Linked DNA regions of Homo sapiens. The protein of the gene in region 3 interacts with the protein of the main gene of each other region in a biochemical or structural test. Each region holds a gene or a part of one and is shown on either strand. Other genes may lie near its edges.

Evidence for each region.
Region 1: the proteins of CLU (region 3) and CD209 form a complex in vitro, tested with the Homo sapiens proteins (one study listed by BioGRID).
Region 2: the proteins of CLU (region 3) and TGFBR2 form a complex in vitro, tested with the Homo sapiens proteins (one study listed by BioGRID).
Region 4: the proteins of CLU (region 3) and LRP2 form a complex in vitro, tested with the Homo sapiens proteins (3 studies listed by BioGRID).

Annotation. Positions count from the first base shown.
Region 1 is NC_000019.10:7,744,410-7,752,157, forward strand, and holds the start of CD209 (CD209 antigen), read right to left. Parts: upstream 3,126-7,748; 5' UTR 3,103-3,125; coding exon 3,057-3,102; exon of another isoform or gene 2,957-3,056; coding exon 2,897-2,956; intron 2,123-2,896; coding exon 2,051-2,122; intron 1,679-2,050; coding exon 1,109-1,678; intron 684-1,108; coding exon 532-683; intron 1-531.
Region 2 is NC_000003.12:30,686,484-30,694,177, reverse strand, and holds the end of TGFBR2 (TGF-beta receptor type-2 isoform B precursor), read right to left. Parts: intron 5,795-7,694; coding exon 5,667-5,794; intron 2,759-5,666; coding exon 2,579-2,758; 3' UTR 36-2,578; downstream 1-35. UniProt on the Homo sapiens protein: Transmembrane serine/threonine kinase forming with the TGF-beta type I serine/threonine kinase receptor, TGFBR1, the non-promiscuous receptor for the TGF-beta cytokines TGFB1, TGFB2 and TGFB3.
Region 3 is NC_000008.11:27,604,108-27,611,801, forward strand, and holds part of CLU (clusterin isoform 1 preproprotein), read right to left. Parts: intron 7,645-7,694; exon of another isoform or gene 7,494-7,644; intron 7,265-7,493; exon of another isoform or gene 7,039-7,264; intron 6,645-7,038; exon of another isoform or gene 6,494-6,644; 5' UTR 6,465-6,493; coding exon 6,368-6,464; intron 4,980-6,367; coding exon 4,831-4,979; intron 2,418-4,830; coding exon 2,247-2,417; intron 1,229-2,246; coding exon 817-1,228; intron 289-816; coding exon 184-288; intron 1-183.
Region 4 is NC_000002.12:169,127,992-169,135,685, forward strand, and holds part of LRP2 (low-density lipoprotein receptor-related protein 2 precursor), read right to left. Parts: intron 4,691-7,694; coding exon 4,583-4,690; intron 1,094-4,582; coding exon 1,022-1,093; intron 840-1,021; coding exon 672-839; 3' UTR 1-671. UniProt on the Homo sapiens protein: Multiligand endocytic receptor. Acts together with CUBN to mediate endocytosis of high-density lipoproteins. Mediates receptor-mediated uptake of polybasic drugs such as aprotinin, aminoglycosides and polymyxin B.

The DNA.
Region 1 (7,748 bases), on a different chromosome or scaffold from region 3:
CATCCATGCACAGCTGGCCTCTCCTCACACCCTCTTGCTAATACTGCATGTTTATCCATTTCACATGTTCTGTGCATGTCCATGCACATTTACTCATAACTGGGCTTAATGTGTTGGAGCCAGAGGCAACCATTTCCTAACTGCTGGTCATGCACATCTCCTTTCAGCTCTGCACTGAGTGACATCACAACGACAGCTTGAAATCAGCCACCATGGGAATATTTACACCAGGGAAACTGGCAAACACGACCCATCAGGACTTCTTCCTCCAGAGAGCTGGTTGTTAACCTCTTGCAGCATGCTGCAGGGGTTTGCTTACATTTGATGTTTTTTTCCGGAGCATTCACACATGTTCAGATTTGGTTTGTATCTGCTCTAAGGGTACTTGAGACTCCCTCATTCATATCCTTCTCCTCCCTTCTTTCCAAGTGGAGCAAAACCCCTCTTCTGCAAAGTCATCTCTGAGCACCTCCTCCCCAGTTGGCCAGAAGCCATGCCCTAGGCCAGGACGGGGACCCCCACCAGGTGTACCTGCTCCTCAGCACTTTTGATTACGACGAGCTGGGCCCCCACTTCTTTGCAGGCGGTGATGGAGTCGTGCCAGTTCCGCTGGGAGTTAGACATGAAGTAACAGTTTCCTTGGAAGAATGTCCATTCCCAGGGACAGGGGTGGCACAGGCGTTCTGTTGGGGGAGGCTGGTCAGGGCTGGGCTTAGATTAGGTTGTCCATATTCCTGTACCTGCCCAGCCTTCAAGGTCTTGAGAGTCAGAGTCCTTCCTTGACTGTCCACGCCGGGTAGACCATTCCCCTCCCCACTTCCCGAGACCCTCCCCCATCCCCATGAGAACCCAGGAGTCCTGGCCCCATCTCCTCCAGACTAGGAGAAGTTGGGGCTTTAGAACTCAGAACAGAAGGCAGGAGACTGGCTTAACTGAGTGCCTGTTGTGTACCTGGCCCACTGTGAACACTGAGGGCAATGATCACAGTTACCCTGTGTTCTCATTTCACAGATGAGGAAACTTGCTCAGGCAGGGTCAGTGACTCAAGCAAACTCACACCACACAACGACCATCTCAGGCCCAAGAAGCCCTGGTTCCAGATACTCACCCACTGCAGCCTTCAGCTGGGTCAGCTCCTGGTAGATCTCCTGCTGCTTAGATTTCTCTGGAAGCTCACCCACTGCAGCCTTCAGCCGGGTCAGCTCCTGGTAGATCTCCTGCTGCTTAGATTTCTCTGGAAGCTCACCCACTGCAGCCTTCAGCCGGGTCAGCTCCTGGTAGATCTCCTGCTGCTTAGATTTCTCTGGAAGCTCACCCACTGCAGCCTTCAGCCGAGTCAGCTCCTGGTAGATCTCCTGCATCTTAGATTTCTCTGGAAGCTCACCCACTGCAGCCTTCAGCCAGGTCAGCTCCTGGTAGATCTCCTGCAGCTTAGATTTCTCTGGAAGCTCACCCACTGCAGCCTTCAGCCGGGTCAGCTCCTGGTAGATCTCCTGCAGCTTAGATTTCTCTGGAAGCTCACCCACTGCAGCCTTCAGCTGGGTCAGCTCCTGGTAGATCTCCTGCAGCTTGGATTTCTCTGAGAGCTCACCCACTGCAGCTTTAAGCTGGGTCAGGTTCTGGTAGATCGCGTCTTGCCTGGATTGTTCCTGACTTATGGAGCTGGGGACCTTGGACACTGGGCCAAGAAAAAAAAGGAACTGCAATTATTAAACACCTACTGTGTGCCAAGCCTTGAACTGAGCCCCATAGGGACATCATTTGTGAGAGCCAAGGTCTTGGTTAATCCCCTTTGAAGATGAAGAAAACTGACACCTGGAGAAGGCAGCACAGAAGGCCAAGGAGAGCCAGATTCTTCCTGTCCTCCTCCTCCTCCCTCTCCTGTCCTGCCCTAGAGTGGGGAGGGGCTGTGGGAGAGGCCCCTACAGACCCCCAGGGACAACATCTTGGCTCTCAGTCCCACCTCCCTCCCAGATCTGGCAGCCCCAGGCTGTGTCCACAGCCAAAAGCCAGGCGTGGGGACCCCAGACCCTCAGAACCTGCCCCTGACCTTGGACAAGGAGCCCAGCCAAGAGCGTGAAGGAGAGGAGTTGCAGCACCAGGGGACCATGGCCAAGACACCCTGAGAGAGGATACATGCGTCAGCCTGCCAGTGTCCCCACCGGAGCCTGGCCCAGGGAGAGCCTGGTCTAAATCCCTCAGCACCCCAGGACCCAGGAACCCCAGCCCCAGCCCCCTCCACTCCAACACCTGGGAATCCAGGCCCTAGCTCTAACCTCCCCAGGACCCAGGGACCCCGTCCCCAGCCTCCCCTTCCCCAGGTCCCAGGAACCAGGTACCTGCTTCCACCTCCCCAGGACCCAGGAATCCAGGCCCCAGCCTCTACATTCCCAGGTCCCTGGAACCCAGGCCCCCAGCTCCCACCTCCCCAGGACCCAGGGACCCAGGACCCAGCCTCCCCTTCCCCAGGTCCCAGTAACCCAGGTACCTGCTCCCACCTCCCCAAGACCCAAGAATCTGGGTCCCAGCCCCTACATCCCCAGGTCCCAGGAACCCAGGCCCAAGTCCCCACCTCCCCATGACCCAGGAGTCCAGGCCCAGGCCCCCACCTCTCCAGGACCCAGGAGTCTAGGCCCCTGACCCCACCTCCCCAGGACCCAGGAACCCAGGCTTCAACTTCTACCTCCCCAGAACCCAGGAGTCTTGGCCCCAGCCTCCACCTTCCCAGGAACCAGGAATTCAGGCCCCAAACTCAACCTCCTCAGGTCCCAGGAGTCCAGGCCCCTAGCCCCACATCCCCAGGACCCAAGAGTCCAGGCCCCAGCGTCCAGCTCCTCAGGACCCAGGAGTCCAGGAGTCTCTCGTCTCTCCTCCCAAACTGCTAAGTCCTCTCTACCTGCTAAGCTCTTGTATCCTCGAGTCTGTCGGAATCCAAGGCCTCTCAGCTGTTCCTCCTCTGAATGGATAGACGTGAAATCAGAGCCTGGGCAGGCTGAGGCCATGGCTGGCCATCCCTTCCCCCTTCCCAGAATCCCAGCGTCCCAACCCAGCCTCACCCAGGAGGCCCAGCTGCTGCAGTCTTGGTTCCTTGGAGTCACTCATGTCACCCCACTCTCCCCCAGTGTCCAGAACTCCTGGGGGCCACAGCTTTTATTTCCCACCCTGTGATCTTTACTTCCTAAATCTAGTCTCCCACAGAAAGAGAAACAGGAAGTTGGGTAGGGATCTGTCATCCAAAAGACTAGTGGAAAGCATCAGAGCATGAGATGGGCCGGATCTTTCAAGAATTTCAGGGAGGCAGTGGGGGATGGTCTGGGGTTGACAGGGAGAAGGACTCATCCACTCATGGATGGCTGAGCAGTGGGATGCTTTTAATGAAATCTGATAAATTGTAAGAGAAAGCTACTGTGTTACACCCCCTCCACTAGGGCAAGGGTAGGCAGGTAGCACCCCCAGTTCCTGGAAGCACTGTCCCCTGTGACCTCCTGGCTTTCCTGCTTTGAGCTGCTGCTGTCCTCATTTTTGGGAATTCCTGCTGACTTTGGGAGTTGGGGCAGAATCATAATTGCTTGTTTATTTAATGCCTAGGGTAGTCAGGTACTTTTCCAACAGCTTTATAAACTCATTCATTTAATGTTCCTACCCTTCAGTAGATCATATGACCTCCATTATACAGATGAGGAAACTGAGGAGGCACTGCAAGTTTAGCTAACTGGCCCAAGGTCACACAGCTGGTAGATGGTGGGGCTGAGACTTGAACCCAGTCTGCCTCCACAGTGCATGCTGTTAACCAAAGAGTGAAATAGTATCAAAGAGGAAAGAAAAGATCCATAGCAGCTTTATTTAGAATGATCTGAAATTGGAACAACCCCGTGTCCACCAGCAGGTGAATGATAAAAAATATAATGGCATATTCAAAGATTGGAATACTATACAGCAATGAAAAAGCAAAGTACTAGTACATTTAATAACATAGATAAATCTCACAAAACAGTAAAAGGACCCAGACAGAGTGAGTACACACTGTAAGATTTGATTTTGTGTGAATTTTGAGAACAGGCAGAACTAACCTTTGAAGGAGACTCAGAATGGGAATTATCAGGAAGGAGCAGGTGGAGATTGACAACGGGGTTTCTGTATGCTGGAAATGTTCTATATTTTGATCATAGAGATGTGCATTTACCACATGTGTGTTAAATCTCAGTTTAAAGATGGAAAATACATACATGTATCATAATCAAATAGTGGTTTTCGACCTGATCTTTACTTTGTATTCTTTTTTAAAATGTTTTAATTTTAGAATAATTTTGGGTTTATAGCAAAGTTGCAAATGTAGGAAAGAGATTTCCCATATGTAAATCCCTCACCTAGGGATCCCTAATGTGAACCCAGTTTCTCCTAATGGTAACATTTCACATGGTAATGAGGTAGGAAACTGGAAGAACTTGTTTTCTGGCCACAACCCTGCAGACCCATACAGAATCTGGTCCAGATGAGATGATGTGAAGAAACCAGCAGGAACCAGCAGATGGCAACAAAAGCAATCCCTGGCTGCCTCATTGCTCGTGGGCATAAGATACTCCCTCCAGTGCCATGACTGTTTACCGATGCCATGGCAATGACCTAGAAGTTCCCACCTGTTTCCATGGAAACAACCTGGACATCTTCGCCCTTTTCCTTAAAACTTCTAAAGAACCTGCTCCTCAATTTGCATTGACCCACCCCTTAACTGACGTATAACTGAAAGTGAGTTGACATGAGTATAACTACAGCTGCCAAGAGCTTGTATGTTGTTGACTCTGGGTGCACTGCCTATGAGTTAGCCCTGCTTCACAAGGAGCAGTATCATTACATAAAAAATATCTGTCTAAGGCCAGGTATGGTGGCTCACGCCTGTAATCCTAACACTTTGGGAGGCTGAGGTGGGCGGATCACAGGGTCAGGAGTTCGAGACCCTCCTGGCTACATGGTGAAACCCCATCTCTTTTAAAAATACAAAAAAAATTAGCCAGGCATGGCACGTGTCTGTAGTCCCAACTACTCAGGGGGCTGAGGCGGAAGAATTGCTTGAACCTGGGAGGCAGAGGTTGCAGTGAGCTGAGACTGTGACAATGCACTCCAGCTTGGGCGAGAGAGTGAGACTCCATCTCAAAAACAAACAAACAAAACCGGTGGCTCACGCCTGTAATCCCAGCACTTTGGGAGGCTGAGGCGGGCAGATCACCTGAGGTCAGGAGTTCGAGACCAGCCTGAGCAACATGGTAAAACCCTGTCTCTACTAAAAATACAAAATTAGCCAGGCATGGTGGCTGATGCCTGTAATCCCAGCTACTCGGGAGGCTGAGGCAGGAGAATCACTTGAACCTGGAAGGCAGAGGTTGCAGTGAGCCGAGACTGCAATACTGCACTCCAGCCTGGGCGACAGAGTGAGACTCCATGTCAAAAACAAACAAACAAACAAACAAAAGGTGGCTCACGCTTGTAATCCCAGCACTTTGGGAGGCCAAGGCAGGCAGATCACCTGAGGTTGGGAGTTCAAGACCAGTCTGACCAACATGGAGAAACCCTGTCTCTACTAAAAATACAAAATTAGCCAGGCATGGTGGCTGATGCCCATAATCCCAGCTACTCAGGAGGCTGAGGCAGGAGAATCGCTTGAACCTGGGAGGCAGAGGTTGCGGTGAGCTAAGATCGTGCCATTGCCTTCCAGCCTGGGCAACAAGAGTGAAACTCTGTCTCAAAAAAAAAAAAAATCTCTGTCTGACATCACTGGCTCACCCTTGAATTCTTTCCAGAGCGAAGCCAAGAACCCTCCCCAGCTAAGCCCCAATTTTGGGGTTCACCTGTCCTGCAACATTTGGTGACCTTGAAGGAACAAAGACAGTGAGCAAGCGGCAGTGACTGGTGCAGCACTGCCGATCTGCCGATGGTGATCGCCAGTGAGACAGTGAGACAGTGGGGATCACTGAAGAATTAGTAAGACAGCAGAGACAGTGGCAATTGGTGATTGGCAGAGAGGTGAAACAGCAAGGGATGGCAAGACAGCAAGACGGCAACTGGTAAGGTGGCAAGAGGCGCCCGTCGGTGATAGGTCAGTGAGACAGAGAGGTGGTGATCAGAGAGTGGTGGAGTGGTGGCAAAGAAAGAAAGACAGAGAGGTGGTATATTAGTCTGTTTTCACGCTGCTTGATGAAGACGTACCTGAAACTGGGCAATTTGTAAGAAAAAGAGGTGCCTTTTGGCCGTAACTGCCATCTTCCAGTAATTTGCCAAAATGATGAACGCAAAGGGGAAGAGGAGAGGCACCCAATATATGTTCTCTAGGCCTTTTAGAAAGCATGGAGTTGTTCCTTTGGCCACGTATATGCGAATTTGTAAGAAAGGTGATATTGTAGACATCAAGGGAATGGGTACTGTTCAAAAAGGAATGGACCACAAGGGTTACCGTGGCAAAACTGGAAGAGTCTACAATGTTACCCAGCATGCTGTTGGCATTGTTGTAAACAAACAAGGGCAAGATTCATGCCGAGAGAATTAATGTGTGCATTGAGCGCATTAAGCATGCTAAGAGCTGAGATAGCTTCCTGAAATGTGTGAAGGAAAATAATCAGAAACAGAAAGAAGCCAAAGAGAAAGGTACCTGGGTTCAACTGAAGCACCAGCCTGCTCCACCCAGAGAAGCATGCTTTGTGAGAACCAATGGGAAGGAGGCTGAGCTGCTGGAAACTCTTCCCTATGAATTCATGGCATCAGAGGTGTTAAAAAAATAAAAGACCTCTGGATTGTGAAAAAAAAAAAAAAAAGAAAAGAAAAGAAAAGAAAGAAAGAAAGAAAAAGAGGTTTAATGGGCGGTTCCACATGGCTAGGGAGGCCTCACAATCAGGTGGAAGGCAAAAGGTAAGTCTTACATGGCAGCAGACCAGAGCGAATGAGACAGCCAAGCAAAAGGGGTTTCCCCTTATAAAACCATCGGGTCTCATGAGACTGACTCACTACCACGAAAACAGTGTGGAGGAAACTGCACCCATGATTCAATTATCTCCCACTGGGTTCCTCCCACAACACGAGGGAATTATGGGAGCTACGATTCAAGGTGAGATTTGGGTAGGGACACACCCAAACGATATCAGATGGTGATCAGCGGTCAGCAGGATGATGATTGGTGAGACGGAGAGGCAGCAGTTGACGAGAGACAGCAAGACAGCCATCAGCACTACGGTAATCAAAGCTGCAGAGCTGTAACACTAACCAAGGACTCTTTGAAGAACCATCATCTTCCCTAGCAGGCAATGGAGCTGAGCAGATGAACATTCGGCTGTAGTGCCATGTGATGTGGGACCAGCCACTCTGACCAGCAGGCCAATAGGCTACTGGTCCCCTGTGACAGCTGAGCTGGCCCAAGCTGGGAAACCTGGGCACCTGGCCTTGGTGGAGAAGACCTTCACCCAGGCCCTAAGTTGGAGACCAGTCAGTGCCATTTTGGCTCCTGGGGACAGGTGAGTGTCCCCTCTGCCCCCGCCTCCACAGTATTGTGTGAGCCAGGAAATAAGACTTTTGGCTAGATAGTCAATTCAAAGTCCCCTGTAGCACATCTGACCAACTACGTTCTTTTTTTTTTTTCTTTTTTTGAGGCGGAGTCTTGCTCTGTCGCCCAGGCTGGAGTGCAGTGGCGCGATCTCGGCTCACTGCAAGCTCCGCCTCCCGGGTTCACACCATTCTCCTGCCTCAGCCTCCCCAGTAACTAGGAC
Region 2 (7,694 bases), on a different chromosome or scaffold from region 3:
CATAAATTGCAAAATAACCAAATGAGGCAAATGGATTTAGCTACTAGGAATGGGAACAGGAGGCAGGATGCTCACCTGAGTATTTTGCTTTATTCAATCTAATAAACATTTTATTTATGTAAAAGACAAACAATGCATAGAATAAAAATAAGTGCTTGAGACTTTTGATATAAAAAGAGTATATAGCATTCACATTCCTATTTTAATACATGAGTACAGCTGAAGTGTTCCATAAAAGAATAAAACTTTCCCTTTATGTATAGTAGTGAAAAAAGTCAGTATTTTTAGGAACTACAGAATGTTATTCCTTGGTCTTTTTTCTTGAATAAGAAAAAAAAACATAAACAAAACAAGCCACAGTATCCTCTGACACTACATTCCAGTTTATGCTGATAACCCAGAAGTGAGAATACTCTTGAATCTTGAATATCTCATGAATGGACCAGTATTCTAGAAACTCACCACTAGAGGTCAATGGGCAACAGCTATTGGGATGGTATCAGCATGCCCTACGGTGCAAGTGGAATTTCTAGGCGCCTCTATGCTACTGCAGCCACACTGTCTTTAACTCTCAGCCCACCCACACTGAGGAGGGTGCCTAGAGGTTCTATTTCCAAACCTTTGCATGTATCTTAAAAATCTCAATAAAATGAGACCTTCCACCATCCAAACAGAGCTGATATTCTCACTACCAGTCCCTCTCTAATATTCCTATTTGGCTGAAAATAAGTAGCTTCAAAAAGTTTTAAAAAAGAGATTACTTGCAGCATTAACACTTCTTTGTTGATTAACAAGTTTCCTATGGAGTTTTAAAGCTCATACTTTGTTCTTGTCCTTGTGGACACAAATTTTCTAACTGCAAATGGGACCTTTGTGTCCCACATTCAAATCCTCTCTAGTAATTTCTGCAAAGGTTGAGAAGGCTGGCATGATGGAGAGAACGGTAACCATGAGGAAAGCTTCTTGGAGTAAAGCACTCCTCTCTCCAATGCAGAGGGTAAAACTATTAACATATAAGCAAAAGAAACTTGGGCTAACTGAGACCCTTAAAGGAGTTCCCCTTTAGTCCAATAAAAGGCCAACTTCAAATCTTAACACCAGATAAGGTAGTCAAAATCATATTATATACCCAGAGAATGACTGCTTGAATGGACATTTCTTACAAGGGACCTTGGTTAGGTGCAGATTTAATTCCTAGACTGGGGTCCAGGTAGGCAGTGGAAAGAGCTAATGTTTACAGTGAGAAGTGAGGCAGCTTTGTAAGTGTCTCCACACCTTCACATTTTGTGAACGTGGACTGGAGATAACTGAAAACCATCTGCTATCCTTACCTGGGGATCCAGATTTTCCTGCAAAATCTCCAAATATTTATAAAGTGGCTTCACTTTTTGAAACGCTGTGCTGACCAAACAAAACATATGTTTAGAGTGCCTGAGGTCATAGTCCTGACAATGATAGTATTGTGTAGTTGAAATCCTCTTCATCAGGCCAAACTGTGCTTGAGCAATCAGGAGCCCAGAAAGATGGAACCCATTGGTGTTTGTATAGAAAACTAGAAAATCAAGTCAAGTGTAATGAAAAAGTAAACACGATAAAGCCTAGAGTGAGAATTTGCTCCTTTTTAGAAAAGGATGAAGGCTGGGAGCAGAGAATAGTAACATAAGTGCAGGGGAAAGATGAAAAAAAGAACAATTTTTCATTAGTAGATGGTGGGGCAATCGCATGGATGGGGACATCTGTTCTGATTTTTCTGCAACCCATGAAGGTAAAAAGTGGGGTTCAAAACATTCAAGGTATTAAAGATGGGGTAGAGTTTCTAAACTAGGTTGAGGGAGAGTTTCTAAACTAGCCCCCCAGATTTGGGGCTTGGAGCTTAAATGAAAAGTCCAGGAGAAATAAGGGCACACAGGAACCCCGGGAACACTGGTCCTCAAACAGTGCCACTGTACTTAGTTCCATGGCCAGAAGAGAAGTGCTAGGCAGGGAATGATTATTTTGCAAAAGCAAGTGCAATGTGGTCATAGCTGGCTGTGAGACATGGAGCCTCTTTCCTCATGCAAAGTTCACTGTTTTACAGTCAGAGAACCACTGCATGTGTGATTGTCAAATGCTAATGCTGTCATGGGTCCCTTCCTTCTCTGCTTGGTTCTGGAGTTCTCCAATAAAACCAATTTCCTGGGAATATTTGATGTTTTTCCTTGTCTCTTTTCAAGGTATGGCTATATATATAGAGCTATAGACATATATAGATATATATATATATATATAAAACATAGCTATTCATATTTATATACAGGCATTAATAAAGTGCAAATGTTATTGGCTATTGTAAAAATCAATCTCATTTCCTGAGGAAGTGCTAACACAGCTTATCCTATGACAATGTCAAAGGCATAGAATGCTCTATGTCACCCACTCCCTGCTGCTGTTGTTTCTGCTTATCCCCACAGCTTACAGGGAGGGGAGTGACCCCCTTGGTTTTCCAGGAAGCATCAGTTCAGGGGCAGCTTCCTGCTGCCTCTGTTCTTTGGTGAGAGGGGCAGCCTCTTTGGACATGGCCCAGCCTGCCCCAGAAGAGCTATTTGGTAGTGTTTAGGGAGCCGTCTTCAGGAATCTTCTCCTCCGAGCAGCTCCTCCCCGAGAGCCTGTCCAGATGCTCCAGCTCACTGAAGCGTTCTGCCACACACTGGGCTGTGAGACGGGCCTCTGGGTCGTGGTCCCAGCACTCAGTCAACGTCTCACACACCATCTGGATGCCCTGTAGCGGGAAAGAGATCCAAAGGGCACCATGAGTTGGTGGGCTCCGCGGAAGGCAAGGTGGCCTGCTGACCTTGTTGCTATAGTGAGTGCAAGCAGGGTCCAAAAGTGCCTGTGCATTTAACATGTGCTGACTGAGTGCCTGCTGCTGCAGGCCAGCCAGTTCCATGTGGAAAGGGTGGTGGGGGGTTTGTGCTGGTGGCAGCTGTGCTCAAAACCTACCATACTTTTTGGCTCTGGTGCTATCTGATCACAATAGGTCCTGACAGCACAATGATCCTCTGCTGGGCTTCTGGGGTACACTAACACTCCCAACACCTGAAAATTCCCCATGTAGTGGCCCTTAATATCATTTCAACACCTTTCTATTTAGAGAAGTTCTCGCTTCACAGCAAAATTGAGTGGAAAGTACAGAGAGTTTTCACAAAACCCCTTCCCCATAAAGGCACAGCCTTCTCCACCTTGACATCATGCATGCATCTATGAGGTACATTTGTTATAACTGATGAACTAACACTGACGTATCATTATCAATCAAATTCATAGTTTACATTAGGGTTCACTCTTGGTGTTGTATATTCCAGGGGTTTTGACAAATGTATAATGACATGTATCTACCATTATAGTATCATGCGGAATAGTTTCTCTGCCCCTCAAATTCCCTGCATTCCACTTATTCATCCCTCCCTCCATTCCCCTAAATTTCTGGCAGCCACTGATTTTGTACTGTCTCTGTAGTTTTTGCCTTTTCCAGAGTGTCATATAGTTGGGTCATATACACTGTTCTATTTTAACAGGGCTGATTACCCCCGTCAGAATTGTATGCAGGCATTAGCATGGTTTCATTTTCTATAGGCCACACATTTTGTAGAGTGATTCAGTAGCAGCTTCTACGAGCTGCCAAGGATGACCTCTGGGATGCTCCATTCCTCTCCAACAACATTGGGTTGAACCCTGTGAAACAGCTGCCTATGTGGGTCAGGCATGCTTAACTCTATGCCATTTCCTAGGGTTCACCCTAACCGAATCAAGCTCCCATCCAAGGAGACCATCCAGGAGATCCTGCCCAGGAAGGTGGCAAGAGTTTTCTCTCACTGGCTTAATTTTTATTTTGCATTGCAAATATTTTTGTTATCATTTCAAATCCTTTTTGGAAATAAAGCAGGCAGGAGTTAAGTAAATGGTCTGATAGGTGGAAATAGAGTGTGCTCCTCCCAATTGTAAGATCAACATTGCTAATGGGATCCCTCACACAGGTGGCTGGGAGTGGGATGGATAAATCTCAAAACTACCTGGGAGAGCTGGCACTTTTTCTACTTGTTTTCTAATACCAACAACTTTCCAAACACACCTAGGAGCCTATCTCTCCCTCCCCACCCGATGAGTTCATGATGTTAAATTAATTGCATAATTCACCTAATTGACAGTATTGACAGATGGCCCTGTTAAGAGTAGAGTGCTATTGTTGGTACACAAGTAACATTTATTTTATTCTGGCACTGTAATTACAGGCAGTAAATTAAATTAAATATTAAGCATTAACTTGAAATCAATAGGGCAACAAATCTCATTATGAGAAAAAATGTATTATGCAAATTCTTTTCAGAATTTTATCATCATGAATAATGGCATCATTACGAGAACTATACAGCAGAGGAGGCAACAGAGTTTGAAAGAAACATAACACTCCAGCACATTCTGATTTCAGAATTTATGCAAAATATTCTTACAGTTTTAGTGTCAAAGAGGATTTGCTCAAAACTCCAGAGAAGCCTGTGACCCACCACAGCCTGGTTCCCCCTCGCCAACCTCCTCGGACTTTATTAAGGTCTGTCTGCTGAAGTGGCTCTGGGCCAGGACTGGCACAGACCAGACTTCCTGCTCCATTTGTCTTCCCGATTGTGCCTGATTTGTTGTTTCTGTTTCTTATCTGAATTTGCCTTGCCCTTAGGGAAACCAACAACTTAGCCTCGGCCTTCATGGTTGAGGGAATTCATCCAAAAGAGGCAATAAAAGGTTTTAGTCAGTAGAAAGAACAGTCTTCTCAGTGAGATAGGGCCACACTGTTCTCTCTCATTCTTCACTAAGGGCTCCTTCCTGGGTGTGTCAGACATATAGCTGGTTCTGACTCACTCACAACCTATCGTTTTCTTTTTTCTCTGACCATTGCCCTCATCAAAGTGCCCCCAAACAAACAATTTGGATCAGCCTCTTTATGAGTCCAGAATGACTGCCCTGCTATGGACAGCCTTAGCTAGCATTTCTTAACAAGGAAAAATAAGAGGCCATTAGGATGTTCCCAACAGACAGATTTCTCGTTCCTTCCAGGGCATTCTCCTCTTCTTTGCTTTCCTTAATTCCAGAGTGAGGAGTCGGTCTCCTCTTTCCCACGCGTGCTCACTCAGGCCTCTCCCAAGTCTGTGAGCACAGCCTGCAAACACCTGTACACAGCCTTCTGCATGCCACAGTCACTTCTCACTACAGCTGCCTGACAAACCCTGCTTGTTTTGCATCTGCTAAGTATTTCCTTATGGAGCTGAAGATTCCCAGAAGAAAACATTTGGAATCCAGAGGGAATCAAATATAAACTCCTGACGTGAAGGCCCAGGAGTAAGTAGCAGAGGCTGCAAACAAAATGTTTTAACCCAGGACCAAGGGGGCTTGGAAAATGTGGCAAATGTCCTCCGAATGGCTATTTGTGAACTCTCAGAGTACATATCAGCTGGTTGGAGCCTATAATAATTGGGTTATCCACTGTATTGAAATTTGCTTTATAAACAAAATTTAACAGGGCCATAGAACACAATGGGACCTTCCCTCAGATTTAAGCTCAATATTCCAGAATTCTCTGCCACCTAAGAGGCAACTTGGTTGAATCTTACTGACCTTTGTAAACACTCACTCCTTACCTGGTGGTTGAGCCAGAAGCTGGGAATTTCTGGTCGCCCTCGATCTCTCAACACGTTGTCCTTCATGCTTTCGACACAGGGGTGCTCCCGCACCTTGGAACCAAATGGAGGCTCATAATCTTTTACTTCTGTGAAGAAAGCCAGCAAACACAGGGTCACTGAGAATGGCATGTGCAGCCAAAGGAAATGAGCATGGTGAGATGCCTGGCTGGGGAGCATGAAGCACTAAGTAACAAATACATACGTAATTACTCTAAGAGCAAATTTTAATAATAATGGCTAAGATAAGAAGGAAGGAGTGGTTGGGGAAGGGCTAGAGAAGTATTCAATAAATGATTGTTGAGTACTTAAAATGTGCTAGGTGTTACGCTGGGGGACACAGTGGACAACAAGATAGAGAGGGTCACGGAGCTTAGGTTTTAACACAGGCATTTTCTACAGGGGGATATTGCAGCAAAAGGGTGAAACTGGTTCTTGGGAAGTGGAAAAATCTTATGTATTACAATGGTTTGTGAGCCTCCAAAGGCCCAGAGTATACAAAGAGATTTAAAATGTGGTATTAAATTTCATGTAGGTATTGAGGCATAAAAAGGAATGAAACTCTGGCACATGCTACAACATGGATGAATCTTGAAGACATTATGCTAAGTGAAATAAGCCAGACACAAAAGGACAAATATTGTATCATTCCACTTGTATGAAGTACCTTGTACAGGTATATTCAGAGACAGTATAATGGTGGTTGTCCAGGGGGCAACCTGGGAGGAAAGGGTACGAAAAGTTATCCTTTAAGGGGTAAAGAATTTCAGTTGAGCAAATTTCAGTACAGAAAAATGAATAATGGTGATGGTTGTAGAGCACTGCGAAGGTACTTAATGCCAGTAAACTGTACACTTAAAAATGGTTAAGATGGTACATTTTATATTATGCCTATTTTGCTACAGAAAAACATCATGGAGAGTAGTGTTTAGAAAAAAAGTTGTCTACAGGCCAGGTGCTGTGGCTCATGTGTGTAATCCCAGCACTTTAGGAGGCTGAAGGAGGATATCTTGACTCCGGGAGTTTGAGACCAACCTGGGCAACATAGCGAGATCCTCTATCTATACAAAATAAAAAACAAAACAAGCAAACAAAAAAAGTTGTTTAAAAAGGCTCCTTACGATATCACTGATTTTAAAAAAGGTTGAGAAATGCTGTTTTAGTGGGAAGACAGAGGGGACAGATTAACAACATCAACAAAATTTTAAAACGATAATTTTCCTCTGATGGTATATTCAATAAAGAAAATGATAAAGGAGGAGGTAACCCTTCACCGGGGCCTCAGGCTTCAACTAAGGTCAAATTCTTTATAAAAACTTCCTTGAACATCCTTAGGGTCAATCTTGGTTAGATATCCTGGGCAGGGCTCTATTCGTGCATATACCATATTTTATTTAATATATTCACCTGCTTATTTTTCTCACCTAACTGGACTGTGAGCATTTGGGTGCAAGTTGAGTCCCTTTCTCATTCTTGTATTCTTGGTGCCAATTGCAAGGGTCTCCCATGCCAACAGGCTGTCAACAAATGCTTTGTTGAGTGAGTGAATGAATGAATGAATGAATGAATCTTAGATTCTCTCCAAAGTGGCAGTGCATAAACTCTGGCCAAACATTAAAACAAAACACCAATTTAAATGAGCAGATTAATATAGTGTAAACAGAGCACAGGACACTTAAAAAGATAGAAAACATCCCAGTACTAAAACATGCCTGGGCTGAAAGGAGAGATTGGGCTGGATTCAACACTGTTCTCCAAAGTAAGTAGGATCTTTGGCCTTTAGCTTCAAAATAATCTTATTTAATGAGTAAAACTTTCAATACATTTGCACTTCTAGGTAACGAATTGAAGAAGCTTTCATGGCAAGATGACATTTTGAAAAGGGACGGCTTGTTTTTGTTCTTTGTTCATTTGCTTTTTTCCCCTTTTCCAGAACTCTACTTGAATATTTATCTTTTTCAGCTTCACCAAATAGTAGAGCTGCCAGGA
Region 3 (7,694 bases):
TAAGATGAGGAACCGAAGCTGCATGAGGCTCAGGACCTGCCCCGGGACACAGCTCAAAGGCTGCAGAGCTGGAATCCAAACGCTTATCTGTCTGACTCCATAAAGGCAGCACCAGTGAGGCCCCAGTGACCCCAGGACACAAGGGATCAGGGGGGACGGCTTGTGGTCTGGACCCCGACTCACCCACAGACAAGATCTCCCGGCACTTGTCACACTGGTCCTTCATCCGCAGGCAGCCCGTGGAGTTGTGGCGGATCTCCCGGCACACAGTCCGGTCATCGTCGCCTTCTGGGGACACACGAGGGAAGAAGAGTCAGTCATCCAGCCATGCAGAGATGGACTCCACTGATTCCTATTGTTATTTTTATTTATTTTTTAATTTACAGACAGGGTCTCACTCTGTTGCCCAGGCTGGAATGCAATGGTGCAATCATAGCTCACTGCAGCCTCCAACTTCCAGGCTCAGGTGACTCTCTTGCCTCAGCCTCCCGAGTAGCTGAGACTACAGGTGTGCACCACCACACCCGGCTAATTTTTTAAGTTTTTATTTTTGTAGAGACAGGGTCTCACTATCTTGGCCAGGCTGGTCTCAAACTCCTGGCCTCAAATGATCCTCCCGCCTTGGCCTCTCAAAGTGCTGGCATCACAGGCATGAGCCACCATGCCCAGCTCAGTTTTTTTCCTCTTTAAATAAGGATAATATCACCCTTGTGATATTGCTGGAGAAAAATCGAGATGACACCCGCTGAGCCCTCGGCATGGTTCTCAGCATCTAACGAGTTGCTCAAAAGGCCATGAGCTTCCACCCCTTCTCACCTCGTATGAATTCTGTTGGCGGGTGCTGGAAGGCCGGGCTATGGAAGTGGATGTCCATGGCCTGCTGAGCCTCGTGTATCATCTCAAGGAAGGGCTGGAACATGGCGTGGAAGTTCAGGGGCTCGTACGGAGAGAAGGGCATCAAGCTGCGGACGATGCGGGACTTGGGAAAGAAGAAGTGAGGCCTCCGGTGGGGCAGGCTGAAGGGCAGGTAGTGGTAGGTATCCTGGGGCTCCCGGGTGAAGAACCTGTCCTGGAAGAGCTCGTCTATGATGCTGGACGCGCGGCTGAAGTGGTCCTGCATGACATCCAGCATGTGCGTCTGCTGCCGGTCGTTCTCCAGCAGGGAGTCGATGCGGTCACCATTCATCCAGAAGTAGAAGGGCGAGCTCTGGTTCAGGAACTCCTCAAGCTGGGACAGCCAGCATGGGCACAGTTAGGAGAAGCTCACCAAGGCCACGGCCTCCTGGCCTCCCACCCCCTGGTGAGCCAGGCCAGGCCCTGCCCATGGCTGTAACAGTCACACAGCAAGTGACCAACAGCCCAGCTGGGACCAGCCCCCAGCACCCCATCTGTCAGGTCCATGCTCTTTCCTTTTATCTCCCTCCATGGGGGACAGTTTTGAGACACCTGGGAGGCCCCAAAAGTCACAAGGCCCAACATTTCAGGTTCATTCACTGTCATCTTTGGCCACCAATGATATCCACCCCCGCTCGGCTAAGGGCCAACTGATGTGACTTCAGGGATTGGAGCAATTCACTGAGTCCCAATCAAAAAAGCCCTGCAGCAGAGGACAGGAGCAACACTAATATACTACAAAATCTTACATTGGCTGGGCATAGTGGCACACATCTATAATCCCAACAATTTGGGAGGCCAAGGTAGGAGGATTACTTGAGCTTAGGAGTTTGAGACCAGCCTGGGCAACATGGCCAAACCCCATGTTTACAAAAAAAAAATACAAAAATTAGCTGGGTGTGGTGGTACGTGCCTGTAGTCCCAGCTACTTGGGAGGCTGAGGTGGGAGGATCACCTGAACCCAGGAGGTCGAAGCTGCAGTGAAACATGATCACATCACTGTACTCCAGCCTGGGTGACAGAGTGAGACCCTGTCTCAAAAAAAAAAAAAAATTCTTAAATCCTTCCACATAAGTGGACACAGGGCTCTGCCATCCCACGAAGCAGTTTATTATGTCATCCAGCTAAGCACTGCTGCATGAGTTTTCTAAGAGAAGGCAGATACCTGGCCTACATCCTTTTGATGACTCCACTCTCTCTACTCATGCCAGACATTACCAATGGAGCATGGCACTCTGGGCAAGCCAGCCAATGCTAATCAATTGCATCTGGCATGCGGAATGAAGCATATTTCACTAGGCTCCCCTCCTTCCCCACTCAGAGCCTTGGCCACTCATGTGTCCCCTTTTCACCTGGCGGCCAACCAGGCCTGAGCCACTTCTGCAGACGCGTGCGTAGAACTTCATGCAGGTCTGTTTCAGGCAGGGCTTACACTCTTCCCAGAGGGCCATCATGGTCTCATTGCACACTCCTGGGAGCTCCTTCAGCTTTGTCTCTGATTCCCTGGTCTCATTTAGGGCATCCTACAGGAAGACACAAGGCTGGCTGAGCCACACAGAGACCACAGGCTCATGCACTCAAAGAGCTGCTGGGTGCCAGGCCCTCTGCCCCAGGGCAGGCCTTCCCATAGGCTGGCCACCCAGCATGCAAGTGCCTACCCTTGCTCCAGTTCAAGCTTCCCCTCATTCGCCCACCTGGAATCCCCTTCCCACCTGGCTTAAAGAATCCACTCATCCTTCAAGATCCAACTGTTCCCTAACTCCTAGAAGCTTCCCAACTCCTGGAACCCATGTGGACACCACCTCTCTCTCTGATCACCTACTCAATGACTACCCTCTCACTGAAGCCTCATTTCCTATTCTCTGCTTCTGGTGTTTAAATTTCATCTTCCAAAGCAGGCTGCAGACTCCCTGAATCTTACCTTTCTATTGCAACCATGCCTCCTGGCGTGCAAAGGGAATGGCAGGCATTCAGCACCAAAGCCACACCAGCTATCAAAATTCTCTAACGGGCCCTTGCCACTTGACCCAATAATTCTGTAAGAATCTGTCTCAGGCCAGGTGCGGCAGCTGACACCTGTAATCCCAGCACTTTGGGAGGCCGAGGCAGGCATATTACTTGGGGTCAGGAGTTTGAGACCAGCCTGGCTAACATGGTGAAACTCCATCTCTACTAAAAATACAAAAATTAGCTGGTGTGGTGGTGCACACCTGCACTCCCAGCTACTTGGGATGCTGAGGCAGGAGAATCGCTTGAACCTGGGAGGCGGAGGTTGTAGTGAACCAAGATCAAACCACTGCACTCCAGCCTGGGTGACAGAGCAAGACTCTGTCTCAAAAAAACAAAACAAAACAAAACAAAACAAAACAAAGACTCTATCTCAAAGGAATCCCCTGACAAAGAAAAAGATACTTAAAAATATTTGAAACAGTATTAGCTTATGGCAAAAAAAAAAAAATCAGAACCAACCCAGATGCTTAAAAGAGACAGATTAAACAAACTATGGTTCATATAAAGGGTAGATGGTACATCATTACAAAGGATGTTTATAGTCCATTTTGAATATTATATGTTAAAAATTCATAATTTTAAATATAGCCACTGTCAAAAAAGCATAGAAGAAAATAATAGGAAAAATAGATCAAATGTTAACAGTGACTTGTCCTTGGGCAAAAGGATTATGGAAAAACTTTTCCTTTTCTACTTTTCTATATTAAAGTCTCTATGAATGAGTGTGTTAGTCTTCAAAAAAAAAAAAATAGCCTATCCACACCCCAGAGTTAGGTGAGGTCTTTGTCCTGCTCCATCATCCCCTGTCCCCTGCTGGGCAAGGACAACCCACCTCCCACTGAGCCAAGACACAAGCGCCACCCCTGCTACCTACTTCCTTGCCTTCTGGCTCACCTACTCCTCAACTAAGAAGTAGCAGGCTCTTTTCTCCAAATGTATGTGATGTGCTTTATTATAAAACCAGAATTGTTGAATGTCAAACTCCAGTGATAACCACAAAAATGTGAGAACAAGTCATGCCCCTTCCCCAGGAGCTATTTGAGGATTCTCATAGAATGGTGAGAACTGATACTAAGGCCAAGAAAGGGCATGAAACTTGAAAAAAAGGTAGAGCCACATCCAGGCCAGCAATCCCTGAAGTGGCTCCTATGGAGCTGTGCTCAAAGCGGCCAGGAAAAAAAAACAAAAACAAAAATGAATTCCCTGGTCAGTTTGGAAAACTCTGGGTTTCATGGAGTTACACAGGTTTCTTTACGGCAGAACTTCTCAGAGCCTTTGAAATGCTTTTAACATGCACGATGGATCATGAAGCTTGCAGGTAGCTACATCTTAGCATCTGAAGTAGGGCGACCGTGAGAGGAGGTTTGTAGGATACTCTTAAGGAGACTTGATTTCTTAAATAAGTTGTTCATTGAATTATAGTGTTTTAGTTTTGTTGAATCATTAAGCACAGGCTAGACCTGCTATATCCACTACTGGGCTTAAGATGTTTCTTTATGAAGTAGTCCAGAACTCTAGCAAGACGTGGGGTGCTGTGTGCCTGCCTTAACCCTAACCATATCACCCCTATTAGATAAGCTTCCTGAAGGTTGGACGCCACGCCTGTCTGGGCCCCTGCCGCCACCCCATCCAGAGCCTGCTTGGAACTAGCATGTGATCAGGGCTTAGAAACATCTATTGAAATGAATCTGGGCATTAGGCCCTGGGCCAGGCTCATAACAAAACCAGATCCAAGATCTCACTCCCTGATGCTTTCAGAAGCAAATGAACCTTCCCTGCTTCTTAATTGCAGCCTCAGCATCAGCTGACACAGCCTGGGAGGACTGCGGGTCACCATGGCAACCCAGCAGGGCACCGCGCAGTGACCCCCTCCCTCCCCTCCAGTGGGATGGTCAAGGCAGGGAGGCGGTAGCGGCTCCTCCTGACCTCTTTCTTCTTCTTGGCTTCTTCTAGGTTGCTGAGCAGTGTCTTGCGCTCTTCGTTTGTTTTTTCTATGAGAGTCTTTATCTGTTTCACCCCGTTGACAGCATTTTGAATTTCCTTATTGACGTACTTACTTCCCTGATTGGACATTTCTGCAAGAGAAGTGCAAGAGGCAGAATGAGGCGAGAGGAAGAGGTGGCCTCAGGACCCTGGAATGAGCTGGATGGCCAGAAAGGCCCGTTCAGTTCAGGGGCTGTCAAGGCTGGGACCCCCACTCCTGCCAGCAGGCAGCAGCATGGCCCCAGCCTTGCCCTGGCACAGGCTCCCATCACAGGCTCCTTGCTGACTGCACCCTACTGCTTAGAAATGCAGACCATGGGAGCCGGCACACCCAGAGTTATGCCCAGCCACTGCCATGTGCCCCTGGAGAATGAGCTGGGTGCAGAAGAAACTTGGCAAGGAAAAAAAAAAACCCAGAAGTGTCAGCTTTGCAGCATCAAAATATAAAATATTGTTATTTTGGACACAAATCTTTCTAGAGTTCAGTTTAAACAGATATGTGTATTTCTTTGTTCCAATGCAGTGCCAGGCGACAGGAATAAGAAGATGAGTAAATGAGTAAGGTATAGCACTGGTGACAAATGCAGCGAAACACTGTGTCACCTAAGTGCTACTTCACTGGTGTTTATCCCATGCCAAGCACTGCGCCAAACACTTCATGTGCAGTTTACATAATGCTCCAGCCCCCCGCCGTGCCCACTTCGCAGAGGGAGACATGGGAAGTGTGATATGATAAAGGGTCAAAGTGTTCATCAGGTAGGAGGAGTATGTTCTGGAGGTCTAACATACAGGTGGTGCTTATAGTTAATAACACCATATCATAACTGGAAATTTGCTAAGAAAGTAGATTTTAAGTCTTCCCACCGTCCCACCATAAAAAGTGGTCATCATTTCAATGTATGTGCATTTCAAAACATCACGTCATATACCTTAAATATACACAATTTTTATTTGTTAATTATATCTCAATAAAATGGGGGGTGGGGGGAGTGTCATGAGATCAAGATAGTGGCCCAAAGTCACCCAGCTGAGAAGAGGTGAAACAGACTCACACCCATGTCTGATCTGGGTTTTTAACAATGATCCTGCAGAAACCGTCAGCTCACAGGAGGGATAAGCTCTGGGCACTCCAAAGGGGAGAGGGATAAGAGCTCCGGTGGTCCAGACACAGCTTCGTGGAGGAGGCCTGGGAGCTGGGCTAAGGGGCCTGGGAGGGGAAGAGCTGAATGAAATGCAACAGCCGAAAGTGCTTGGGAAATGCCTGCAAATGCCGGCAGTCTGATGCACGCAGAGCCTGAACCAGGGGCCTCGGAGCTGAGGCTCAGAGTGGGCCCAGACACAGGCACCCAGACCCAGTGCACAAGATAAAAACGGTCTGTAACACTGGGGCCTGATAGAGAGGCACTGAGCAGAATTAGCTACCCTGCCCTCTGACCTCATCACCCTGTGGCCAGAGGAACATCATGCTTGGTCTACTCACCCTGGAGCTCATTGTCTGAGACCGTCTGGTCCCCCAGGACCTGCCCACTCTCCCAGGTCAGCAGCAGCCCCACAAACAGCAGCAGAGTCTTCATCATGCCTCCAATTCTGGAGTCTTTGCACGCCTCTGCAGAGAACAGGAGACCATCATGGGAACAGCTAGACAGCCTGCTGGCGTCCCGCCCACCTGCTGCCTGCAGCAGCTCCCCAGGGCCTCACTGCCCTCAGCTGTCCCCACAGCAGGCACTGCTGCACTTTTATTCCTGAGGAAATGGGGGGAAATGACCAGACTTGCCATGGACACCTCGAATGAAAGCGAAGGCAGGAGGTGCAGGGAGGGAGGGACTGCAGGACAGCAATGTTGAGTGGAAGAAACAAGAACCCTGGCATCGGAGGAACCAGGCTCTTGTCCAAGCCACATCCTCCCCGACAATCAGCGAGGCACACAGGCTTTCTGCATCCTGGCCTCCTTGTCCAGAGTGGTATCGATCATGTCAGACACTGAAAATACCCCCCTTAGGTCATGCATCCGTCCCTCCCCATGCCACCTCCACAGAGGGACTGCATCCCAGAGACCAGCCACGTCCTCTGCAATGTGCACCTAAACCTTCACCCCAGCAGACGCTCCCCATTCACCACAGCGCTGCAGCCCCCAGGGAGTCTCAGCACCACCTGAACTTGACTTTCAAGAGCCGGAGGCAACAGCAGCCAGCCCTTCACACCGAATCCATCTGCATCCCTAGTGGGAGACTTGGGCCGGGCTGCCTGTGCATTCAGGGGTGGAAGTAGTGGAAGCCAGGAAGGACAATTCCCTTCGGAGAGTAGAGAGGGTTCGCAGTGGCCCGAGGAGCAGGCTTCCCAGAGAAAGTCCCTTTGGAAGGATGAGTCCTCTTGCTCTGCCAGGCCCTCCACACTGCCCATCCCCTCTAAGCCGACAGCAGGCTGCCCTGCCAGTGTTCCTGCCACCACTGGGCTGGCTGCCCTGAGCCACGGGGCACAGGCCATAGCCCCGGTCTTACACAATGGACCCTTTCCCAGAAGCTGAGGCTGTTGCATAAAACAGAAACCCCTCCCCCTGCACTCCACCCCCACCATGCCCCTCCCAAGAACTGCTTATCTGAGCTCACCCATTTGCCATCACAGAACCAACAGGACGATGGGGTTCCCCTTCCTGAAATGGTTCACATCCAAAGCCCGCTCAGCCCAGCAGGCCCATCTGGACACTCAGTAGCACATTAACAAGGAGTGCCTCTCATGAGAAGTAATCAGGCGCAAAGAGCCAGGGAGCAGCGTGGGAGAAGAGATGGGGTCAGCGCCTTCCCCAGAGA
Region 4 (7,694 bases), on a different chromosome or scaffold from region 3:
TAGTGAGAGAACACACATGAAACAGAGAGTTCTGGTTAGACAATGCCAACACACAGAAGGGCCAAACTGAATTGCTTTTCCTACCTTCTGTATTATCTGAGGAGTCTACAGTCAAGTCCAGATGTCTATACAACACATAGTGGCCCCTATCAACATAGCCATTAATCAAATTGACATGTAATATTGAACATTAATTAAGTGCTAATGTGTAAAAATGGACCCAAGAGCGGGGCCTGGATTCCTTTCCTAGATAATTTTATAGGAAATATGAGTGGTGCCTCTTCTTTAGACACGGCTAAAGGTCCCCAGTCAATTCCTTTTCTTGTTGGATCATTTACTATAATGATCACCAACCAAATCAGCAGACATCTTTATTAGCAAATTCAGTAACAGGATAATCTTTCCAAAATTTACAAATATACAATATATTTATAGTATTACCTTCAGACAACTTCAGTGCAAAGATATACATATAGTACATTGTGATAATTATTTGTAAAAATATGAGACGGCATAAGTAAAAAAAGACACACAGGATACCTCCAACTATAGGCAAACAGGGAAAAATATATTTTTTTCATAAAGTACTGAATGTTAACTTTTTTCATCTGTTTGTAAAAAATATATGTGCAAAAGTGTGTTTCTAATTATTCCCTAAATAGCTGGTATAGCTATACTTCAGAGTCTTCTTTAACAAGATTTGCGGTGTCTTTAAAAGTGTCTTCTGTTGCAGAATAGGTTGGAGTTGGGTCTCTTCTCGAAGGAGGCTTAGGCTTAGCAGGGAGCGAAGGTGATGGAGGTGGTGTCGCAGCAACACTTTCCTTTTGCTCGTTCTCCATCTAAGAATACAATGTAACAGGAATCAGCCATTTATTCCCCCAAGGTCACCATACACGGTTTTTCATAAAGAAGACTATTTGTGGCCACTCTGCTCAGAATAATCTAAGTGTGTGTCCAATTTAACCAAGCAAATAATTTCTAAGAAAAAATGTCTGTGCTAAGAAAAATTGTTAAAAATTACCTGTGCATAGATTGGATTTTCAAAGTTGGTAGTTTGTTTAGATTTTCGTTTGAAGAGATTCCATTTTGTCACCTAAATGAAAAGGGGAAAACAAAAACCTCTCAGTAATGGAATTATTTTGTGGGTTTCTTTTCCTCCTGTCTCAGTTTTAAAATTTCTTCTTACTGAAGGGTAAAGCAATTTGGGACCTGGGACCATGTGATTCAGCCCATATGGTAAATTGTTCAATTCCTCCTATGGTCCCTGAACAGTAACTGAAACTCTGGGCTCTTTTAATCGAATGGTTTTAAACACTTCTTTGACTTCAAATTTATATATTATAGAATTTGTGCCATAGTATCTACAAGCAAATCACCTGGTTACCTCAGTACAGAGAGAACACATAAAACAGACATGCACAAGATGCATCTGGAGAAAAAGAGATTTCTGGGGCTGCCTGAAAATTGGGTGGAGATGGCAAAGCCAAACTGTAACTCTTATTCCCTAAAGTAACATTCTTTGGTCAACTCAAGAGTATCCCTTCTCCCTTCATCATTCCCTCCTGTGTCACAATAATAATAACAAAAACATCTAACATTTATTGAGTGCTTACTATGTGTCAGGAACTATTCTAAGAGTTTTACAAGTTTCTGATTTTTTTTAACAAACCCCAGAGGTAGGTACACTTATTATCCTATACTTGCTGAGTCACAGCAAGATTATACAACTAACTTGCAGGTAGAAGGGCAGGTAATGATTACTCAGGGGACCCAGAGGCCCATAAACTGGAGAACCCAAAGATAATCACCCTGGACCATGGTGCGTGGCCCACGCTTTACTGAAAAGTTGCCTGTCATGCTGACTGCCAGATAAAAACCTGGTGGGAGACAAGGGAACAGACAGCCTACTCTCAACAGGAGCTGAGGGAGCCCACAGGTTTTATGGGGTGTCTCTTACTCTGTGACAGCAGGGGACCAGCCTGTGGAGGAGTGGGGAACACAGGGCTACAGAAGTAGAAGAGGTCTTCACTTTAACCCACATTCAAGTGAGAACCTGCTTTGTACATAGTGCCCCCAAGGGGAACATGAAGACATTCAGGTCAGAGCCCTGCCTCTGGGCGCTTACAGTTAAGTGGGGCGGGCCAAAGTCTCTTAGATGTCATTGCTTCAAAATGAAATGGCTAACTTGAAGTTAAGCAATTACTAACAAGAGGAAAGGGACGGTGACTTTCATTTTTGTCTCCTTGGGGGATCCTATGCATATCAATGTAACTTTTGGAAAATGATAGAACTGAATCTTTTTTTTTTTTTTTTTGAGATGAAGTCTCACTCTGTCGCCTAGGCTGGAGTGCAGTGTCACAGTCTCGGCCCACTACAACCTCTGCCTCCCGGGTTCAAGCAATCCTCCCACCTCAGCCTCCTGAATAGCTGGGACTACAGGCATATGCCACCACACTCAGCTAATTTTTGCATTTTTAGTAGAGATGGGGTTTCACTATGTTGGCCAGGTTGGTCTTGAACTCCTGATGTCATGATCCACCCACCTCGGCCTCCCAAAGAGCTGGGATTACAGGTGTGAGCCACCGTGCCCAGCCCATGTTTTTAATTGTTAGTCTTTCAACATATTTATGGATGAAAGATACATTTGTGGGACTCTGGCATATTCAAATCAACCTAGGTGATCTCACCCAAGCGCCTCTACTGCTTTTAAAGCATGCTGGCTGTTAACTCAGTGCCCAGGAGGGAAGAAATACAGTGAGATCCCTGGACATAACATGGAAGACACATTTTAGAGGGTCTCAGCCTCACTAATGTAAAAAAGTAAGAGGAGGAACCAAGGTATTACAAAAGGGAAGAGAAAGAAAGGACTACAATTGGTGAAGATCTGCTCTCCTTTGAAAGAGACTGTCAGTTTACATTTTGTTTCTGATAACAGACATGCAGATCAGAGGTTACAGCCTCCCCACCACAGTCCCCTTCCTGCACCAGCTGGGGAAAATGTCTATTTAGTGAAGAAGATCACTAGACTAGAGATGGACTGAGAAAAAATGTTGAAAATATAAAATAAATCTGGCACTAGCTTGGGGTTGACTCAGGCTTGGAGGACCAAATATATGACATTCAAGCATCCGTGTGTCTGTGGAAAATTAATCTTCAAAATCCATTTTTAATATAGCTTAAAGAAAAAATGTTTAGTCCCTTGAAAAATCTGAAACTGAAAATTCCTTTCTAGACAATATTTATGTATGTCTGTGAGTGTATGAGTGTGTGTGTGTGTGTGTGTGTGTGTGTGTGTGTGACATGAGAAGAAGAAATAAGGGAATTTGAGAAGGTGTACAGAAGCCTTGATATAGACTCTTCTCAGCATCAATTTAGGTCAAATTTTATTTTGATTTAAATCAGCAGAACAGAAACCAATGTTTAAGGTGATAATGAGACTGCCAAGTTACCAAGATATCAATGTTTATAGACTATGAAATTTGAGAAATAAAGATTGTATAAAATGGTAAAATTTCCAACTACTCTTAGACTTTCATTTCTTTACATTACTTCACAAAATTGGTCATAGAATCTTAGAACAGAGACATTCCAGATCCTAGCGGTTCTCAACCAGGAGTGAGTGCACATGTGTTGGGGAGGGGAGGTGATTTCTGGGGTCACACTGAATTAGGGGAGACACTACTGGAATTTAGTGGACAGGGACCAGAAATACTGAAATTCCCTGAGTGCATAGGACAGTTTTGTAGCACAAAGAACTGTCCCACTCAATATGCCAATAGCGCCCCCAGTGAGAAATATTATTGAGGACTCTAGCCCCAGAAGTAAAACAGTTTGTCCAGATTCAAACAGCTATATCTGGTATAGCTGCAAATGCATTCATTAAAACTAATGATATACATTAATACAGAGTTTAATATCAAATATATTTATTGAATTTCTTCCTGCAGACCAAATAGTGTACCAATTGCAAAGGACCTGCAGGCATGTTTAAGAAGCTCCATCTAGTGGCATTTTTTTCTTTCAATCTCCAGTATTAAACACCATCCCTGACACATCGAGGGGAATAACGTTAGTTAGATGATTGGTTGGCCAATAATGAATAGATGGATGATGAATGGAAAAATTAGTGCCATCTAGTGGTAAAGATCTGTAATAGCAGGAGAGCGAAGAACAGCTTGAAAGAATAAAGATGCATGCTGTAGAGAAATCACGGCACACACAGACGGATCTTTCATCTGTATCTTTGACACCGTGAAATCTTTATTCATACTGAGTCAATTTCTCAACTTAAATGTCTCTGGTCTGAAGATACTGGATCCAGAAGTCTATTTGTTCTTCTTTGTGACATGTCCTCCTATGTTACAAGGAACATTATTCCCAACTCGATGTTAGAATGTAGCTTTATTTGGTGGAAAGTTTTTCAATCTATGACTTTTTAAAAAATTATATTTATTAACTGTCAACACATCTTGAGATCTTTGAGCCTTCCAGAATCTCCCTTGTTTGCTTAAGGTTAATAAAAACCCAGTCATCCCAAAGTTTTTCCAAATCCCACATTATTTCAGGAGTCGGCAACTGTTACCTGAGTTCCATCAGCAGCTGGTGAAGTTGGGTTTGTCTCTGGAACTATCTCAGAAGGGTTTATGGGACTTCCATAATTCTTATTATCCACATTTTCAGATACAGTCACCTGTGGACATGTTAAAGGCCTTTACCCAATTTTGAAAGAATTTAGTAGTAAATAAATTTGCTGTAAAGTTTGTACCAACTCTGGCTCTTTTTGCCATCTTGTTCTCCCACAGACATCATCAGGCACCATTTTTATTGCATGACCCAGTAGGCCAGGACTAAACATCACTCCCACCGCCCCAAAATCAAGAGCAGCAACCACTAAGTCACCTCATACCTTAATCCTGGGAGGCAAATACATCCCTCACTGGTCACACTCTCACTTATTACTAGCAATTTCTACTGTATTCTCTATACCTTCTTACTCCCACTGTTGACCAAATTTTTGGATAATCATACTCTAGTTATATACTGGAAGCCAAATCCTAGAAGAACAGCAAGAATAATTCCCCAACCTCACTGATGAACTGAGAATCCTATCTTTGGATCTTAATAATTTCTTTGAATATTAATAAATCCTATCTTCGGAAATTAAGATTTCATAGTACTACTAAAAAGAGGTTGAATTTTTGAAAAGATGAGAATGATAGAATTAATAATCTTCTACGCATTTTTCTATAACATTCATACAATTCCAAGGTTCCCTTTTAAGACCAAATTACCATGAATGCATAATAAACTACAAGGTAGACAATTCACTCCTTTTCCTATATTTTCACATTCATTACTTGTTTATTCTGAAACTTGGATATGCATTTGTATACATGGCCTCATTTTATTTTAAGTGAAGATGTCAAATGAAATGTCGTATCTCTTTTATCATGTGATTAAAGTTTTCATATCTGTTTATCAGAGGATCAGGGAAAATGCTTTCAAGATTTAAACATTTCCGATCTTAAAATCACAAAATATTTGTAAAATAAACATTTCTAGTTTCTGTATTAAAATGTGCCATATCTCGAGTTCAAAAGGAGCATTAGGTGTTAACAATGACAGTTATTCATTGTCACTAAGGCCATAGTTGTTGTGACAAAGGAGATACATGTTCGCAGTTGACAAGCAGTAAAAGTGGCGCTGGGGCTATTGATGCAGACCTTATGTAAAGTTATTCCCTTCACCTATATTCCTATTTCATCTCCCAGCTCTTCTTAAAGATGACGGACTGAATCTCAAACATGCTTTCTTTACTATTCCTTTGCACCCGTCATCCCAGCCTCTCTTCACTTTCACTTAGACTGAACCTGACACCCATCAGGCTCAGCAAATTACCTGGGCTGTACTGCTGCAAAGCTTCACAGACAGCCCCCATTACTTCAGTCAAGCCCAAATTTCATCCTCATCTGTTACCTATTTCGGCATAATTCTCATAAAAACACACATGCTCTCCCTGCTGATCAAGTCTGACTAATCTCCCAAACCTCAATCCCTTCTACAAAACAACAACTCCTTTCCTTCCTAGGCATGGTTAGTGCAGTCAGAATTCTTACACAAGAGCCGGGACCGTGCCCTGTAGCCTTTCTGTCCAAACAACTTGACCTTACTGTTTTAGCCTAGCCCTCATGTCTGCGTGCAGCGGCTGCCACTGCTTTAATACTTTTAGAGGCCCTAAAAATCACAAACTATGCTCAACTCACTCTCTACAGTTCTCATAACTTCCAAAATCTATTTTCTTTCTCCCACCTGACGCATATACTGTCTGTTCCCCAGCTCCTTCAGCTGTACTCACTCTTTGTTGAGTCTCCCACAATTACCATTGTTTCTGGCCCAGACTTCAATCCAGCCTCCCACATTACTACGGATACCACACCTGACCCCCATGACTGTATCTCTCTGATCCACCTGACATTCACCCCATTTCCCCATATTTCCTTTTTTCCTGTTCCTCACCCTGAACACACTTGGTTTACTGATAGCAGTTCCACCAGGCCTAATCGCCACTCACCAGCAAAGGCAGGCTATGCTATAGTATCTTCCACATCTATCATTGAGGCTACCGCTCTGCCCCGCTCCACTACCTCTCAGCAAGCCGAACTCATTGCCTTAAGTCAAACCCTCACTCTTGCAAAGGGACTACATGTCAGTATTTATACTGACTCTATATATGCCTTCCATATCCTGCACCACCATGCAAGAGGTTTCCTCACTACACAAGGGTCCTCTATCATTAATGCGTCTTTAATAAAAACGCTTCTCAAAGCCGCTTTACTTCCAGAGGAAGCTGGAGTCATTCACTGCAAGGGCCATCAAAAAGGCATCAGATCCCATCGCTCAGGACAATGCTTATGCTGATAAATTAGCTAAAAAAGCAGCTAGCGTTCCAACTTCTGTCCCTCACAGTCAGTTTTTCTCCTTCACATTAGTCACTCCCACCTAGTCCCCCGCTGAAACTTCCACCTATCAATCTCTTCCCACACAAGGCAAATGGTTCTTAGACCAAGGAAAATATCTCCTTCCAGCCTCACAGGCCCATTCTATTCTGTCATCATTTCATAACCTCTTCCATGTAGGTTACAAGCCACTAGCCAGTCTCTTAGAACCTCTCATTTCCTTTCCATTGTGGAAATCTATCCTCAAGGAAATCACTTCTCAGTGTTCCATCTGCTATTCTACTACTCCTCAGGAATTTCTCAGGCCCCCTCCCTTCCCTACACCTCAAGCTCGGGGTTTTTCCCCCGCCCAGGACTGGCAAATTGACTTTACTCACATGCCCCAAGTCAGGAAACTAAAATACCTCTTGGTCTGGGTAGACACTTTCACAGGATAGGAAGAGGCCTTTCCCACAGGGTCTGAGAAGTCCACTGCGGTCATTTCTTCCCTTCTGTCAGACATAATTCCTCGGTTTGGCCTTCCCACCTCTATACAGTCCGACAGTGGACCGGCCTTTACTTGTCAAGTCACCCAAGCAGTTTCTCAGGCTCTTGGTATTCAGTGGAACCTTCATACCCCTTACGGTCCTCAATCTTCAAGAAAGGTAGAATGGACTAATGGTCTTTTAAAAACACACCTCACCAAGCTCAGCCACCAACTTAAAAAGGACTGGACAATACTTTTACCACTTGCCCTTC